Regions from separate parts of the Homo sapiens genome. Here region 2 is linked to region 1. Evidence: fine-mapped expression QTL. A gene starts in region 1. The other region holds a variant in brackets. All regions are shown on one strand. Distances are from middle to middle.

What was found. PIP is the estimated chance that this variant, and not a neighbour inherited with it, causes the effect.
Region 2: its variant is fine-mapped to the expression of MRPL20 in whole blood (Lepik 2017, PIP 0.94).

Annotation. Positions count from the first base shown.
Region 1 is chr1:1,403,128-1,411,385 of GRCh38, forward strand. MRPL20 (mitochondrial ribosomal protein L20) reads right to left here and starts at 4,166. Exons shown (of 4, transcript NM_017971.4): 1 at 4,004-4,166; 2 at 3,782-3,892; 3 at 2,682-2,759. The coding sequence starts at 4,090. MRPL20-DT (MRPL20 divergent transcript) reads left to right here and starts at 5,221. Exons shown (of 1, transcript NR_170330.2): 1 at 5,221-7,557. It also overlaps the pseudogene RN7SL657P. RefSeq lists enhancers at 3,363-4,029, 4,030-4,697, 4,111-4,240, 4,698-5,364, 6,288-7,175 and 2 more and silencers at 3,881-3,940, 4,421-4,610.
Region 2 is chr1:1,289,012-1,297,326 of GRCh38, forward strand. It overlaps SCNN1D (sodium channel epithelial 1 subunit delta), which reads left to right. Exons shown (of 18, transcript NM_001130413.4): 13 at 1,260-1,377; 14 at 1,466-1,544; 15 at 1,626-1,683; 16 at 1,884-1,942; 17 at 2,054-2,129; 18 at 2,243-3,014. The coding sequence ends at 2,599. ACAP3 (ArfGAP with coiled-coil, ankyrin repeat and PH domains 3) reads right to left here. Exons shown (of 24, transcript NM_030649.3): 15 at 7,414-7,622; 16 at 7,200-7,269; 17 at 7,004-7,098; 18 at 6,725-6,927; 19 at 6,436-6,543; 20 at 5,707-5,805; 21 at 5,391-5,617; 22 at 5,079-5,188; 23 at 4,812-4,922; 24 at 3,380-4,697. The coding sequence ends at 4,553. It overlaps MIR6726 (microRNA 6726), which reads right to left and starts at 7,159; the gene lies at 7,099-7,159. RefSeq lists enhancers at 1-72, 345-917, 3,382-3,927, 8,172-8,315 and a silencer at 3,008-3,077. The variant C/T (reference allele first, on the strand shown) is at 3,456.

The DNA.
Region 1 (8,258 bases):
AAAAAAAAAAAGGAACAAAAACACAAAATTCGGCTACCGAGGACAAAGTGGCCTACTACCTGTGACCTAACTGTACTACCTGTGACCTGTATGCTTTGTGCAAAGTCTGTCTCCTTTCTTTCTTTCTTTTTTTTGAAACAGAGTCTCACTGTGTCGCCCAAGCTGGAGTGCAGTGGTGCGATCTCAGCTCATTGCAAGCTCCACCTCCCAGGTTCATGCCATTCTCCTGCCTCAGCCTCACAAGTAGCTGGGACTACAGGTGCCCGCCACCGCACCTGGCTACTTTTTGTATTTTTAGTAGAGATGGTGTTTCACCATGTTAGCCAGGATGGTCTCGATCTCCTGACCTCGTGATCCACCCGCCTCAGCCTCACAAAGTGCTGGGATTACAGGCGTGAGCCACCGTGCCCGGCCAAGTATGTCTCCTTTCTTAACTACAGTTCCCTGAGTAAAATGGGAAAGTCAAACCTCCTAAGCCTACCCTGAAGATCTTTGTAAAGCACCAAAGAGTGCCTTCTGCAAAATACCCACCCCCTCAACCTTTTAGGAAAAACTTAATGTACACAAGCAGAGGGACTAGCATAATGACCAGATTCAGTAATCACCAAGATTTTGCTACACTTGCATAAACCATCCGTTCGCTCCAAAACATTCCCCTTCCTTTCTGTAAGTTCCTATTTCACCTGCTATGTCATCAGAAATCACTCATTATTAAAACTTTTTGTTGTTGTTGAGACACAGTCACACACTGTCGCCCACGCTGGAGTACACTGGTGTGATCTCAGCCCACTGCAACTTCTGCCTTCTGGATTCAAGCCAATCTCCTGCCTCAGCCTCCCGAGTAGCATACAGGCGCATGCCAGCACCACGCCTGGCTCATTTTGTATTTTGAATAGAGACAGAGTTTTACCACATTGCCCAGGCTGCTGTCGAACTCCTGATGTCAGGTGATCAGCCCGCCTCTGCCTCTGCCTCTCAACATACTGGGATTACAAGTGTAAGCCACCGCACCCAGCCTCATTGTTTTAACTTTTTTTTTTTTTTGAGATGGAGTCTCGCTCTGTCGACCAGCCTGGAGTGCAGTGGCGCGATCTCAGCTCACTGCAATCTCCGTCTCCCGGGTTCACGCCATTCTCCTGCCTCAGCCTCCCGAGTAGCTGGGACTACAGATGCCCGCCACCACGCCTGGCTAATTTTTTTGTATTTTTAGTAGAGTCGGGGTTTCACCATGTTAGCCAGGATGGTCTCGATCTCCTGACCTTGTGATCCACCTGCCTCAGCCTCCCAAAGTGCTGGGATTACAGGTGTGAGCCACCGCGCCTGGCCTGTTTAAACTTTCAAATTAAACTTTGAAGTTAAAGTCAAGTTTTTCTACACTTTTTTTTTTTTTTGAGACAGAGTCTCACTCTGTTGCCCAGGCTGCAGTGCAGTGGCGTGAACTCGGCTCACTGCAGCCTCTGCCTCCCAAGTTCAAGCGATTCTCCAGCCTCAGCCTCCTGAGTAGCTGGGACTACAGGTGCCGGCCACCATGCCCAGCTAATTTTTCGTATTTTTAGTAGAGACCGGGTTTCACCTGTTAGCCAGGATGGTCTCAATATCCTGACCTCATGATCTGTCCGCCTCAGCCTTCCAAAGTGTTGGGATGCCTGGCCTTTTTTCTTAATGGGGAAACATCAGGACTTACATCCCAGAAAGACGTGCCCTGTTTCCAATTCTGCTCTGCTGCCAACCAGTGCGGTAAGCTCCCAGACCTGCCAGAACCCCACACCAAGACAGAGTGCAGCTACGGTGCAGCTGGAGTGGCACTCCTCGCCTCTGCCACATGGACTGCTAACAGGCTGCGCCAGGTCTGATGGGAGGGTTTGATTTATTTACTTTTAGAGATGGAGTCTTGCTCTGTTGCCCAGGCTGGAGTGCAGTGGCATGATCTCGGCTCACTGCAGCCTCCGCCTCCCAAATTCAAGCAATTCTCCTGCCTCAGCCTCCAGAGTAGCTGGAATTCTAGGTGCCCGCCACCACACCTGGCTAATTTTTGTATTTTTAGTAGAGACAGGGTTTCACCACGTTGGCCAGGCTAGTCTCCATCTCCTGCCCACCTCAGCCTCCCAAAGTGCTGGGATCACAGGCCTGAGCCACCCTGCCCAGCCATGGCTTTCTTTATTCTGTCAGACGGGGTCCTGCTCTCACCTAGGCTAGAGTGCAGTGGTACCATCATAGCTCACTGCAGCTTCAAACTCCTGGGGGCTCAAAGTGATCCCCCTGCTTCAGACTCCTCAGTAGCTGACATTACATGTCTCTGTACCACCACACCCAGCAAATTTTATTTTTTTGTAGAGAGTGGTCTCACTATGTTGCCCAGGCTGTTGCTGGCACTATTCCTAGGCACAATCTCATCACTCATCAACATGGGAATTGTGACCTGCTCCGTTTCCAGCCTGGGCTGGTTCACCCCTCCTTAGGCAACGTGGTGGTCCCTTGCTCCCAAGAGGTCACCATATTGATACCACACTTAACATGGACACCCCATCAGCATAGCAAACTACAGCCCAGAAGTCAGTCTCCAGGGATCCTCTGGCCTCAGCCTCCTGATTAGCTGGGACTACAGGAAGCACCACCACGCCCCGCATGATGGTTTCTGCAGATGTCCAGAATTTCAGTGGGACCCACATACTCACCCATACCTTAACTAAATTCCCAATGAGCGCTGGATACTTCAGTCCATGTTCCTGGCTAGCAGCTGTAATTCGATTAATCCAGAGCTGAAATAAGAAAACATGAAGATACTTAAAAATGACTTCTGGATGTTATGTCCCAGCAAAGCCTCTAATTGATCTAAAGAATATTTTTCTAAAAGTAAATAGCAAAATCAGTGAGCTATGATGGTGCCATCACTCTGGCCTAAGCGAAATCAAGACCCTGTTTCAAAATTAAAAACAGCAAAAACCCAGCTGGGCACGGTGTCTCACGCCTGTAATCCCAGCACTTTGGGAGGGCAAGGCAGGCAGATCATTTCAGATCTGGAGTTCGAGACCAGCCTGACCAACATGGCGGAACCCGGTCTCTACTAAAAATACAAAAAATAGCTTGGTGGCGCACACCTGCAGTCACAGTTACTCGGGAGACTGGGGCGGGAAAATCGCTTGAACCCGGGAGACGAGGTTGCATTAAGCCTAGATCGCGCCATTGCACTCCAGCCTGGGTGACAGCGCGAGACTCCGTCTCGGGGTAAGAAAAAAAAACCGGGGTACGTTAGATGCTAGGTTCATGAGGCTGAGACGGGAGTGGTGAGGCGCAGTAATGAGGCGGCACGTGGACAGAGTGGAGGCGCCAGCCTCCCAGAAATGCGGGGGGTTCCGGGTGGGCAGAGCTTGGCAGCAGGCGTGGTCTCTTCGAGGAGCACCACGGCAGCAGATAGTAGCCCTGGAGGGTTGGCAAGGGGCTGGGTTGACTTCAGCTGCCAAAGGGAAGGGAAGCCACCGGAGGGATGAGAGCAGCAGCGACTAGGGCGGTGGCTGGCGACGCAGGGAGAGTGTCAAGGCGGCTCTGCAGTGGCCCGGGCGAGGGGCTGGAGCAGGGGGTGACAGTGGGGGTGGCGGCGGGGCGGGAGAACGGATGTCCCACAGTTTGCCTGCGGGGCGACATAATTTGTCGGAGTTTCGAAGCAAGGTATGAAAGGAAGGGGCTGAGGGTGGCCGGGCGGCTGCACACTAGCTGGGTCGCGGCGCAGAAACGCAGGGGCCGCGAGTGCGCTGGCCGGCGGGTGTCCCGGGTCCACGCTTACGGTCCTCATGTTCTTTTTCTTCAGGTATCGGGCTTTGGTGCATTTCACAAAGGCTCGAATCACGGTTCTGACCGCCAACCTGTAGCAGCGATTTTTCCTTCCCCGGAAGTGCTGGGACAGAAAACGAGAAACCAGGGTTGTCAGCGGGGCCCGCGCCGGCCGCCCCTTGGCCCGCGGGATACCCCGGGCGCCCAGTGCCCAGGCCGGGCAGGCGGCACTCACCCTGGCGTGCTTCAGCACCTCCTGGATCCGAAAGTAGCGGTCGGTGACGCGATTCCGCAGCCAGAGCTGCGCGGTGAGGAAGACCATGGCGCCTGCAGGCCGGCGTCCCGAACACTCAACAACGCACGCGCAGCGCCGCTGCCATCTTGCCCGGGTCGGAAATGGTGGTCACGAGCGCTTCCGGGTCAGCCCCTGCGATACTTCCGGGGCGAAGGTCGTCTCCCGTCAGCCCGCGGGTGCCCAGTTGTGCTCCTGAACTCGCGGTGGTGGTGCGTGTTGGGGAGCGGATGTGGGGCCGCGGCGGGGACTGAAAGGAGAACGGGGCCGCAGCGCCCGTGGCTATTCGCGGACGATGGATAAACAGCAGCGCACGCGGACCGTCCCGGAGCACGGCCCCGGCCGCAGCTGTGGCTCCGAGGGCACCGTGAGGGCAGCGGACCCGGGTCGGGGGCCCCGCGGCCGGGGAGCTCGGGTGCGGCGCGGGCGGGGAGGGGCAGGCCGCCCCCTGGGGCCACGAGGATGTTCAGGAACCGAGGTGGAGATGGTCGCATCGGTGTGAAAGTGCCCGTTGCCTCTGAACCTTGCACTTTGTTTACTTACTCATTTTGAGACGGGGTCTCGCCCGGTCGCCCTGGCTGGGGTGCAGCGGCCCGACCTCGGCTCGCCGCGGCCTCTGCCTTCCTAGTAGCTGGGACGTCAGGCGCGCGCCGCCACGCCCGGCTAATTTTTTGTGTTTTTTGTAGAGGGGGCGTCTTCCCGCGTTGGCCAGGCTGTTCTCGGACTGCTGGCTTCTGCTGGGATTACAGGCCTGAGCCACCGCGCCATGCCTGGAAATTCTCAGCTTCGAAATGGTAAATGTGATCGCTGTGGTGCTGATGCCTGTAATCCCAGCACTTTCGGAGGCCGAGGGGGGAGGAACACTTGAGTCCAGGAGTTCAATACCAGCCTGGGCAACATAGTGAGACCCCATCTCTACAAAAAATCAAAAAGAAATTAGCCGGGAGCGGTGGTGGCGCGCGCCTGAGGTCCCAGCTACTCAGGAGGCTGAGACGGGAGGCTCGCCTGAGCTCTGGAGGTGGAGGCTGCAGTGAGCTCAGATTGCACCACCGCACAACAGCCTGGGCAGCGGAGCCAGAGTCTGTCCCAAAAAAATAAGAAGTTTTATATTATGTGTAATTTTATATTTCTGCTATATTATCGAAAAATTGGGGGTGTGCAGTTTCTTTATAACAGTTTATTATACTTGGATATTTTTTAAATCATAGAAGAGTTGGAATACAAGTACAAGGAAAACTCCCCAGTGTTCACTACCAAAATGTGCCAGCTGTTTTCATTTGTTCCATTTGTTTAATACTCTCGAACCAAATTCACCTACTATTTACGTTTTGCTCCATTTTTGAATCATTCTCTCTGTAAATATAAACATAATGGATTTTTTTCCTAAACCATTTGAGACGCTGGAGACACCTAAACACTTTGCTGTGTATTTACTCTTAGGAACCACACCGTAGAATGGTCAAAATCCGGACCCAGCCCACACTCCAGATTTAACTCGCTTCAAATGTCTTTTATACCTTTTTTTCCCTGTTGAGGATTCAGTCTAGGATGACGCACTGCATTTGTTGTTGTGTTTCTTGTTTTGTTTTGTTTTTTTCTGTTTTTGAGACGGAGTTTTGCTCCGTCGCCCAGTCTGGAGTACAAAGGTGCGATCTCGGCTGACCGCAACCTCTGCCTACCCGGTTCAAGTGATTCTCCTGCCTCAGCCTCCCGAGTATCTGGGATTACAGGCGCACACCGCCACTCCCAGCTAATTTTTGTATTTTTAGTAGAGACGGGATTTCACAATGTTGGCCAGGCTGGTCTCGAACTCCCGACCTTAAATGACCAGGCTGACCAACATGGTCAGCTACTCAGGAGGCTGAGGCAGGAGAATCGCTTGAACCCGGGAGGCAGAGTTTGCGGTGAGCCGAGATCCCGCCATTCATTGCACTCCAGCCTCGGAAACTAGCAAAACTCCATCTTAAAAAAAAAGAGGAGGCCGGGTGCAGTGGCTCTGCACAACACTTTGGGAGGCCGAGGCAGGTGGATCACCTGAGGTCAGAAATCCGAGACCAGCCTGGCCAACATGGTGGAACCCCATCTCTACTAAAAATGCAAAAAGTAGCCGGGCGTGGTAGCGGGCCCCAGTAATCCCAGCTGAGGTGGGAGAATTGCTTGAACCCGGGAGGCCAAGGCTGCAGTGAGCCAAGATCGCACCACTGCACTCTAGCGTGGGTGACAGATCAAGACCTTGTCTCAAAAAACAAGAAGAAGAAAAACTACTTTTTTTTTTTCAGATGGGGTCTCACTCTCACCCAGTCTGGAGTGCAGTGGCGCCATCTCAGCTCATTGCAGCCTCTGCCTCCTGGGCTTGAGTGATCTTCCCACCTCGACCTCCTGAGTAGCTGAACCACAAGTGCATGCCTGGCCAATTTTTGTATTTTTGGTAGAAATGGAGTTTCACCATGTTGCCCAGGCTGGTCTCAAAACTGGCCTCCCAAAGTGCTGGGATTACAGACACAACTGGCCTACCTGCAGGATTTTCAGTTTATGGACATGACTGACTGGAGACATGGAGAAGCTGTTGTTATTGGAGATTTTTATTACTCGCATTTCCTGAGCGATGGGGACACTCACTGTGGGGAAAAGCAAGAGAGATCAGATTGTTACTGTGTCTGTGTAGAAAGAAGTAGACATAGGAGACTCCATTTTGTTCTGTACTAAGAAAAATTCTTCTGCCTTGGGATCCTGTTGATCTGTGACCTTACCCCCAACCCCGTGCTCTCTGAAACATGTGCTACGTCCACTCAGGGTTAAATGGATTAAGGGCGGTGCAAGATGTGCTTTGTTAAACAGATGCTTGAAGGCAGCACGCTCCTTAAGAGTCATCACCACTCCCTAATCTCAAGTACCCAGGGACACAGAAACTGCGGAAGGCCGCAGGGTCCTCTGCCTAGGAAAGCCAGGTATTGTCCAAGGTTTCTCCCCATGTGATAGTCTGAAATATGGCCTCGTGGGAAGGGAAAGACCTGACCGTCCCCCAGCCCGACACCCGTAAAGGGTCTGTGCTGAGGAGGATTAGTATAAGAGGAAGGAATGCCTCTTGCAGTTGAGACAAGAGGAAGGCATCTGTCTCCTGCCTGTCCCTGGGCAATGGAATGTCTCAGTATAAAACCCGATTGTATGTTCCATCTACTGAGATGGGGAAAAACCGCCTTAGGGCTGGAGGTGGGACCCGCGGGCAGCAATACTGCTTTGTAAAGCATTGAGATGTTTATGTGTATGCATATCTAAAGCACAGCACTTAATCCTTTACATTGTCTATGATGCAAAGACCTTTGTTCACGTGTTTGTCTGCTGACCCTCTCCCCACAATTGTCTTGTGACCGTGACACATCCCCCTCTTTGAGAAACACCCACAAATGATCAATAAATACTAAGGGAACGCAGAGGCTGGCGGGATCCTCCATGTGCTGAACGCTGGTTCCCCGGGTCCCCTTATTTCTTTCTCTATACTTTGTCTCTGTGTCTTTTTCTTTCCTAAGTCTCTCGTTCCACCTTACGAGAAACACCCACAGGTGTGGAGGGGCAACCCACCCCTACACTCACACTATGCAGGGCGACATGAGAAGCCCCGGTGTTTTGTCAGGAGGCAGAGAGAGGGGAGAAAGCTAAGGCCAGAGCCTTGGCTGGGGATTCTGTGGGAAAGGCAGGGAGGGCGGGGTGAGCAGCTCAGAATGGGCCAGCTTGAAAAATGCCATCTTGGCCGGGCGCAGTGGCTCACGCCTGTAATCCCAGCACTTTGGGAGGCCAAGGCAGGCGGATCACCTGAGGTTAGGAGTTCAAGACCACCCTGGCCAACATGGTGAAACCCCATCTCTACTAAAAAACAAAAAATTAACTAGGTGTGGTGGCAGGCGCCTGTAATCCCAGCTACTCCGAAGGCTGAGGCAGGAGAATTGCTTGAACCCAGGAGGCAGAGGTTGCCAGTGATCCGAGATTGCGCCATTGCACTCCAGCCTGGGCAATGAGAGCGAAACTCCATTTAAAAAAGAAAAGAAAGGCCGGGCTCAGTGGCTCATGCCTGTAATCCCAGCACTTTGGGAGGCCAAGGTGGGCAGATTATGAAATCAGGAGATTGAGACCATCTTGGATAACACGGTGAAACCCTGTCTCTACTAAAAATACAAAAAATTAGCTGGGCGGGGTGGCGGGC
Region 2 (8,315 bases), 110 kb before region 1:
CCGTCCCGTGTCCCTGCTCCGTCCCCCGAGTCTCTGCTCCGTCCCGTGTCTCTGCTCCGTCCCCCGAGTCTCTGCTCCGTCCCCCGTGTCCCTGCTCCGTCCCGTGTCCCTGCTCCGTCCCGTGTCTCTGCCCCGTCCCGTGTCCCTGCTCCGTCCCCCGTGTCTCTGCTCCGTCCCCCGTGTCTCTGCTCCGTCCCGTGTCTCTGCTCCGTCCCCCGTGTCTCTGCTCCGTCCCGTGTCTCTGCTCCGTCCCCCGTGTCCCTGCTCCGTCCCGTGTCCCTGCCCCGTCCCGTGTCTCTGCCCCGTCCCGTGTCCCTGCTCCGTCCCCCGTGTCTCTGCTCCGTCCCCCGTGTCTCTGCTCCGTCCCGTGTCTCTGCTCCGTCCCCCGTGTCTCTGCTCCGTCCCGTGTCTCTGCTCCGTCCCCCGTGTCTCTGCTCCGTCCCGTGTCTCTGCCCCGTCCCCCGTGTCTCTGCTCCGTCCCGTGTCTCTGCTCCGTCCCCCGTGTCTGCTCCGTCCCGTGTCCCTGCTCCGTCCCGTGTCCCTGCTCCGTCCCGTGTCCCTGCTCCGTCCCGTGTCTCTGCTCCGTCCCGTGTCTCTGCTCCGTCCCGTGTCTCTGCTCCGTCCCGTGTCTCTGCTCCGTCCCGTGTCCCTGCTCCGTCCCCCGAGTCTCTGCTCCGTCCCGTGTCTCTGCTCCGTCCCGTGTCCCTGCTCCGTCCCCCGTGTCTCTGCTCCGTCCCCCGTGTCTCTGCTCCGTCCCGTGTCTCTGCTCCGTCCCCCGTGTCCCTGCTCCGTCCCGTGTCTCTGCTCCGTCCCCCGTGTCTCTGCCCCGTCCCGTGTCCGTCCCCCGAGTCTCTGCTCCGTCCCGTGTCTCTGCTCCGTCCCGTGTCTCTGCTCCGTCCCGTGTCTCTGCCCCGTCCCCCGTGTCTCTGCTCCGTCCCGTGTCTCTGCTCCGTCCCCCGTGTCTGCTCCGTCCCGTGTCCCTGCTCCGTCCCGTGTCCCTGCTCCGTCCCGTGTCTCTGCTCCGTCCCGTGTCCCTGCTCCGTCCCGTGTCTCTGCTCCGTCCCGTGTCTCTGCTCCGTCCCGTGTCTCTGCTCCGTCCCGTGTCTCTGCTCCGTCCCCCGTGTCTCTGCTCCGTCCCGTGTCTCTGCTCCGTCCCGTGTCCCTGCTCCGTCCCGTGTCCCTGCTCCGTCCCGTGTCTCTGCCCCGTCCCCCATGTCTCCGCTCCATCCCATGTCCCTGCTCATCCCCCCTGTCCCCAGGCCTGCCTGGTGTCCTGCTTCCAGCAGCTGATGGTGGAGACCTGCTCCTGTGGCTACTACCTCCACCCTCTGCCGGCGGGGGCTGAGTACTGCAGCTCTGCCCGGCACCCTGCCTGGGGTGAGTCCTGCTCGCTGCCTCCCACTCTGTCAGCCATTAGCCGGGGGGTCACAGCGAGCCTCACACATGCCTCTGACCCCTCCCCAAGGACACTGCTTCTACCGCCTCTACCAGGACCTGGAGACCCACCGGCTCCCCTGTACCTCCCGCTGCCCCAGGCCCTGCAGGTGAGACGGGGGTGTTGGGGTCGCGGCCAGGGATCATTGCCCCAGGTAGCGTGGCAGGTGACACCCGGCTGTCTCTTCCAGGGAGTCTGCATTCAAGCTCTCCACTGGGACCTCCAGGTGGCCTTCCGCCAAGTCAGCTGTGAGTCCCCAAAGTGGTGGGGTGGGGGTGTGGACAGCCAGGCAGACCCCACAGGTCCCACAGAGCCCACCCAAGACAAGGGCAGGGCCGGAACTGACCCAGCCTATGCCCCGTGGTCTCTGCCCCCACATCCGCCCGTGGTACCCAGGATGGCCGGGGGCATGGGGGAGCCGTGGCCACAGCAAACCTTCCGTCTGCAGGGATGGACTCTGGCCACGCTAGGTGAACAGGGGCTGCCGCATCAGAGCCACAGACAGAGGTGGGTGCACCCTCCCCCTCCAGAGAGGCATCACAGCCCCTCTCCCCTCAAAGCCCCCCTCCCCATCATGAAGGTCTGGGCCAGCGCCCTCATGCCTCTATCCTGCCCCAGGAGCAGCCTGGCCAAAATCAACATCGTCTACCAGGAGCTCAACTACCGCTCAGTGGAGGAGGCGCCCGTGTACTCGGTGAGCCTTGGCCCCCTGCCTGGGCTAGAGCGGGGGCAGCGACAGTGGCTGGCCCTGCACAGAAGGGGCACGGGGGCCTGGGCCCGCCCCTCACACCCGCACCCCACCCGCAGGTGCCGCAGCTGCTCTCGGCCATGGGCAGCCTCTGCAGCCTGTGGTTTGGGGCCTCCGTCCTCTCCCTCCTGGAGCTCCTGGAGCTGCTGCTCGATGCTTCTGCCCTCACCCTGGTGCTAGGCGGCCGCCGGCTCCGCAGGGCGTGGTTCTCCTGGCCCAGAGCCAGCCCTGCCTCAGGGGCGTCCAGCATCAAGCCAGAGGCCAGTCAGATGCCCCCGCCTGCAGGCGGCACGTCAGATGACCCGGAGCCCAGCGGGCCTCATCTCCCACGGGTGATGCTTCCAGGGGTTCTGGCGGGAGTCTCAGCCGAAGAGAGCTGGGCTGGGCCCCAGCCCCTTGAGACTCTGGACACCTGAACCAGACCTGCCAGGGCTGTGCGATCTCTTGGCCTGGTCCTTGCAGCTGTGGCAGCAGCAGGCTCCCCAGCGGCCCAGGGTGGGCCAGACCAGCAGCCCAGGAAGCAGCACACGCGGCCGTGGGGAGGCAGGCACCGGGCATGTCGGCGCCTCTGGTCAAACCACCTACACTGCCTGGGGTGGGTCTCAAGGAGGCCCGGGGCGGAGGGGGGTTCCCGCGTGCACACGAGTGCGGCTGGACGTGCCGACACGCGGTGATGTACCCATGCTCCGTGTGTCTGTGTCTGCATGTCCACACGTCTGATGCACCTGTGTACGTGTGTCAAGCCTAGCCACCTCAGCTGCAGGGAGGCAGAAGGCAAGGCAGGCCCCACGGACACACTTGGGCTGCTCTGAAATAAAGCTGTTGACTCCACCTGGCGGCCAGTGTGTGCCTGTGTGCCCCTCCAGCCGCCCCGCGCCCGGTGAGCTGAAACCCTGACTGCACCTGGCGGGACGAGCCCCAGCCTAGCCTCGCCGGTTCGCGTCCACCCCTCTTCCCACCAGGAAACTCAGTCTAGGACAGAGAAGGGTAGAAGGGCGAGACAATGGGGACCAGGGGCATCAGGACCCAGATTTTGTCAAACGAGCCCCAGGTCCCCATCAGGCCCCTTGCGGCCTGTTGGAGTCTGACTTGAGTGAGTGCTACCCGGCTCAGGAATGCCCCTCGGGGAGGGCAAGGGACACAGACACTCCCCGGAGACAGAGCAGAGCAAGGCACGGGAGCCCAGGAGCAGGCAGTGGGCGCAAGTGCTTTATTCAAAGCGAGGGGTGGGGGGTGAGACCCGCCAGCAGGGGCCTGGGGCAAGAGGCGGGG[C/T]CAAGCTCACACAGGGAGAGGGGCAAGAATCAATTCTGTTCTTCAGGGTCACAGGCAGCAGGCAAGAGAGTTGGGGGGCCGGGTCCAGCGCCCACTGTGCCCTCAGGGAGCCTCCCCAGGGCAGCATTGCATAGTGACCAGCCGACTGGCCTTAGCCTGACCTGCGCTGAGTGGGGGAGGCCCTGCCTCCCTGCCGGGCACCTTTGGGGAAGGGGTGCGTGAAGGCATTGGCAGGCCCTGCAATATGAGCCGAAAGACCCCTGGACCCAAGGGGGAGGCTGGTCAGGGGCAGGGCTGGGGCTCAGGCGTCCTCAAGAGTCCACAGAGAAAAGACGCAAGACAAAGTCAGACGAGGCCTATAGCAAACCCACTCGGTCCGCTACAAAGAACATGAGATGAGGGCTGCAAAGTGGCAAAGTGGCTTTATGCGCAGGCTCTGGGCCGAGTACCAGGAGAAGGTGCCTCCGGAGGAGGCCGGGATGCGGCTGGGGCTGTCTGGCACGGGGACCTTCGTGGCCAGCCACGTGGCCTTGGGACGCCCGCGTCCAGCCAGGGCTGAGGACCCAGGCCAGAGCCCCTCCCGCCCAGCACCCGCGACGCCAGCCTGGATGCTGGGGTCACTAAGTGAGGTACTCGTTGGTTCCCTGGATGGGCCACCCTTTCTGCCCTGGGAGGAGGCTCTGGGGTGTGCAGGAGGGAGCCAGCTAACAGGTCAGTGTTCTGGGCAGAAGTGGGGCACGAAGTAACACAGGCCCTGAGGACACAGGGACACAGGTGACACGGGCCTTAAAAGTGGCTTGTGACATGAGCAACCCAGGCCCCTGAAAAGGGGTGACCTGAAGACAGAGGTTCCCCAGGTGGGGTGAGGGACACCCGACGATGCAGCACCCCCCCAGGGAAACGTGAGGCTTCAAGAGACTCAGTGTGGGGCCCTCGCTCTCCTCCTGGGCGAGCAGGGCCGCGGCGCCCCAGCACTGGGGCTGCCAGGTATCGACCCGCGGGTCACACGCAGGGCCGCGGCCGGGTGGGCGCCAGGGACTTCGGGGCATGCGGGGCGTCGGGCCGGGCGGGGTGGCAGCTGCCCGGCCTGCCCGGCCCTAGCTCTCTTCCAGGTGGAGGCTGATGAACTCCTGGATACACCTGCGGAACTGGAGCTCCGTGGGGCTGCCCGCCAGGGCGCCCGGGGGACCAGGGGCAGCCTCGGCCTCGCGCATTTCCTCCGCCATGCGCGCCAGACGGAGCCTACGGGGAGGCACAGCGTGAGACGCCCCTGCCCTGGAGGCCCCGCCCCTGCCCTGGAGGCCCCGCCCCTGCCCTGGAGGCCCCGCCCAGCCCCGAGGGCCCGGCCGCGCTCACAGTGTCACGATGTCAGCGTTGGCCGCCTGCACTGCGATGGCCAACGGGTCCCGCTGCTCTTGGTCCAGGGCGTGCTGGTCCGCGCCCCGCTTCAGGAACAGGCAAACCTGGCTGAGGGGCGAGGTCGGAGGGGCGTGTCGGGGCGGGGCGGGGCGGGGCGAGTGTGGTCGCGGGGGCGTGGCCGGATAGGGCATGGCGGACAGGGCGTAGCCGGGCCGGGGTAGGCGTGGTCGGGGCACAGGGCGGGGCGTGGGTTGCGCGTCTCACCCGGTGCGGCCCAGCAGCGTGGCGTGGTGCAGGGGCGCCCGGCCCCGGCTGTCTCTTTGGTTCACGTCCGCTCCGTTTTGCAGCAGGAACTCACAGACGATCAAGGAGCCCTGGGGAGCCGGGGCAACTCAGACGGAGCCACGGCACCGGCCCCTCTCCGCGCCTCTGCACCCTGACCCCGGCCTTGGGCGCCCCCAGCCGGGACCGAACGTGGTCCCCACCGCGGACAGGCGACCCTTGTGTGGGCGCCACAGAAGATGCAAACGCGACTGTGCACCTGTGTCCTGCGCGCAGCCCCCGTGGCTCGCTCACCCCTAGCACGGCCTGCACCAGCGGCGTCTTGCCCTCATCCTCCGCGTCCGCCCAGTTGACCTCGGCCCCGTGGGCCAGCGCCGCCGCCAGCGCAGGAAGGTCGCGGGCACGCGCTGCGCGGTGCGCCAAGAGCCCCGGGTGCAGCTCGCGCACGTCCGCCAGGCCCCAGGCCTCGGCCTCAGTGTCCCCGTCTGCCTCACCGCTGGACTCCTCCGACTCTGCACCCTCTGTGGGGAGGGGGCGGTCAGGGAAAGCAACCCCCGGGGCTGCCCAGGGGCTGGGCAGGGGCCTCGGGCGAGGGCAAGACGCCACCCACCCTCCTCAGTGACGCTGTCCACCACAGAGCCCGAGCCGAAAGCCAGGACGTCCGAGCTGCCATCCGAGCTGCCCCCAAGGCCACTGTCGCTACTCAGACCTGCAGGTCCGCAGGGAAGGGGGTCCTGAGGGTGGGAGGCCCAGACTCCGTCCAGAGCCCTGGGGCAAGGCTGGAACTCCACCCACCCTCCAGGGGCCACCCCTAGGGACAGGACCAGCTCCCACCCAGGGCCGGGGGGAGCCAGCTGCAGGCTAGGAGCAAAGGAGAGAAAACCAAATAACAGCTCAAAGGTGCCAGGGGTAGCCCCCTAAAGCCCAGGCCTTTTGGGAAGCCCTTCCCTCCCGCTCGCCGCCTTACCCGGCACCCCCCGCAGTGGGCCCCCCAGCCCCGTCTGTGGCTGGCCCAGGCTGAAATGTCTCCACCCAACCAACGGGCAGCATGGCTCCAGAAGGGCCCTAGGCTGAGGGCCGGCTGGCAGCGCCCTCTGCTTCCCCAGCACCCCGGGCCACCCGCTGTGTGCACACACCCAGGTGCACACAGCCCACACACACATTTGCACAGCTCACCCCTGACAGTCAGGGCCTTGGCCTCCAGCTGTGTGGCCAGGAGGCCCCCCGCCCCTTCAGATGCTGCTCCATTCCCTGGCAAGGGCCATCCACACTCAGGCACCCTTCAGGCCAGCCTCCTTGGCCCTGCCCTGCCACCTGGCTGGGCCCACCCCACACTTACTGCGAGGGCCAGCCCCTGCGGCCCCTGCGTCGAAGTAGGAGAAGAGCGAGTCCAGCTCGTCGGGACAGAAGAGGGAGTCTCGGCGGAACTTACGATCCAGGGTGCCCACTGCAGGGGCAGTGCGTGTTCAGAGTGTGGAACAGGCCCGGGGTGGGGCAGGGAACCCCAGGTCACGCCGGGAGTCTGCGGAGCCTGAGGTGCCCCCAGAGCCCTGCCACCAGCCCCTTGACGGAGTCCATCCCCGACCAAGGCAAGCCCCTCCCAGCCCTGCCGGGGCATGGCCTCCCACCTGAGGACAGAGCGGCCACACAGGGCAGAACGGGCTCAAGCCGGACCTTGCGGCGGGCAGTGGGAGCGCGGGGAGAGCTGTGGGGCCGCAGGCACTTCTGCACCCTCCAGCGTCTTGGGGCCTCCAGGGCTGGTGCCATGGGCGCCTTCCGCAGAAACTTCTTTTCCACGTATTTGTCCTTGATCCAGGCCTCCTTGTCCTGCCTGGACCAGGGGGGAACATGAGGCTGTGCCCCCAGGCTGGGGCTCCCTGACTGATCCAGACTGTACCCCACCTCACCGGGAGCTGCTGGCTGTGGGTTTCCTGCTGCCTGCACCCTCACACTGGGCCTCATAGATCTGATTCACAGCGCTGTTTCCAAGCTCACACATCAGCTAGCGGGAGACAGGGCGAGCAGGCATCAGTGCGAACCTGCAGACCCCAGCTCCCGCCCCCACAAACGGGGTCCCGTGGCCTCCAGGAGCCCCACACGCACCTTTAGCAGCTCAGGCTCCCACGAGTCCAGCGTCAGGGACCGCACCTTGGAGCAGTGGACACCCAGGCTCCTGGAGAGCAGAGGTAGGGATGAGTCTGGGGGAGGCAAGGCCCCCAGCTCCGGCCCAACCCCCACCCCCGGCCTGGCCCTCAGGGGCCCACCTGTGGATGCTCCAGCCCAACCCCCACCCCCAGCCTGGCCCTCAGGGGCCCACCTGTGGATGCCGGAGCACTCAATGCAGAGCAGCACGCCCAGGTTGATGCTGGCCCAGCGGGGGTCCGGCTGGCCGCAGTCGCCGCACTGGCTGTTGCCGGCCACACTCTGCACACGCTGCAGCACACTCTCGCCCTTCACGCCACGCTCCCGAGTGTCGGTGGCGGAGTCGATGCTGCTCGTGGACGGGGATGCTGTGCGGTCCAGCCTCTGGAGGATGGGGTGGAGCTGCTCGGTCCCGCAGGGGCTCCAGCATGGTTTCCCCAGCAGGCCCCCTCCTCCCCAGCCAGAAGAGCCAATGCAGGCCAGGGCCCCTCGAGCACACGCCCGCACACGCACGTACACGCGCACACCCTCACGTGGGCAGATGGCCCCCCCCTCGAGCACACGCCCGCACACGCACACACGCGCACACCCTCACGTGGACAGGTGGCGCCGAGCACACGCCCGCACACGCACGTACGTGTGCACACCCTCACGTGGGCAGATGGTGCCGAGCACACTCCCACACGCGCGTGTATACGTGCACACCCTCACATGGGCAGATGGTACCTGCACACACATGCACATCCACACTGCACAAGCCAGCATGCCAGTGCACACCAGCACACACCCAGCTTGCAGGAGCCACACACAGGCGTGTGCACGTGTGTGGGGCAGGGGCCATCCCCAGTGGCACGTAGGTGTGTGCACCGGCACGGGGCAGGGGCCATCCCCAGTGGCACGTGTGTGTGTGCACAGGCGCGGGGCAGGGGCCATCCCCAGTGGCACGTGTGTGTGTGCACAGGCGCGGGGCAGGGGCCATCCCCGGTGGCACATGTGTGCACGGGCTTGGGGCAGGGGCCATCCCCGGTGGCACGTGTGTGTGTGCACAGGCGCGGGGCAGGGGCCATCCCCGGTGGC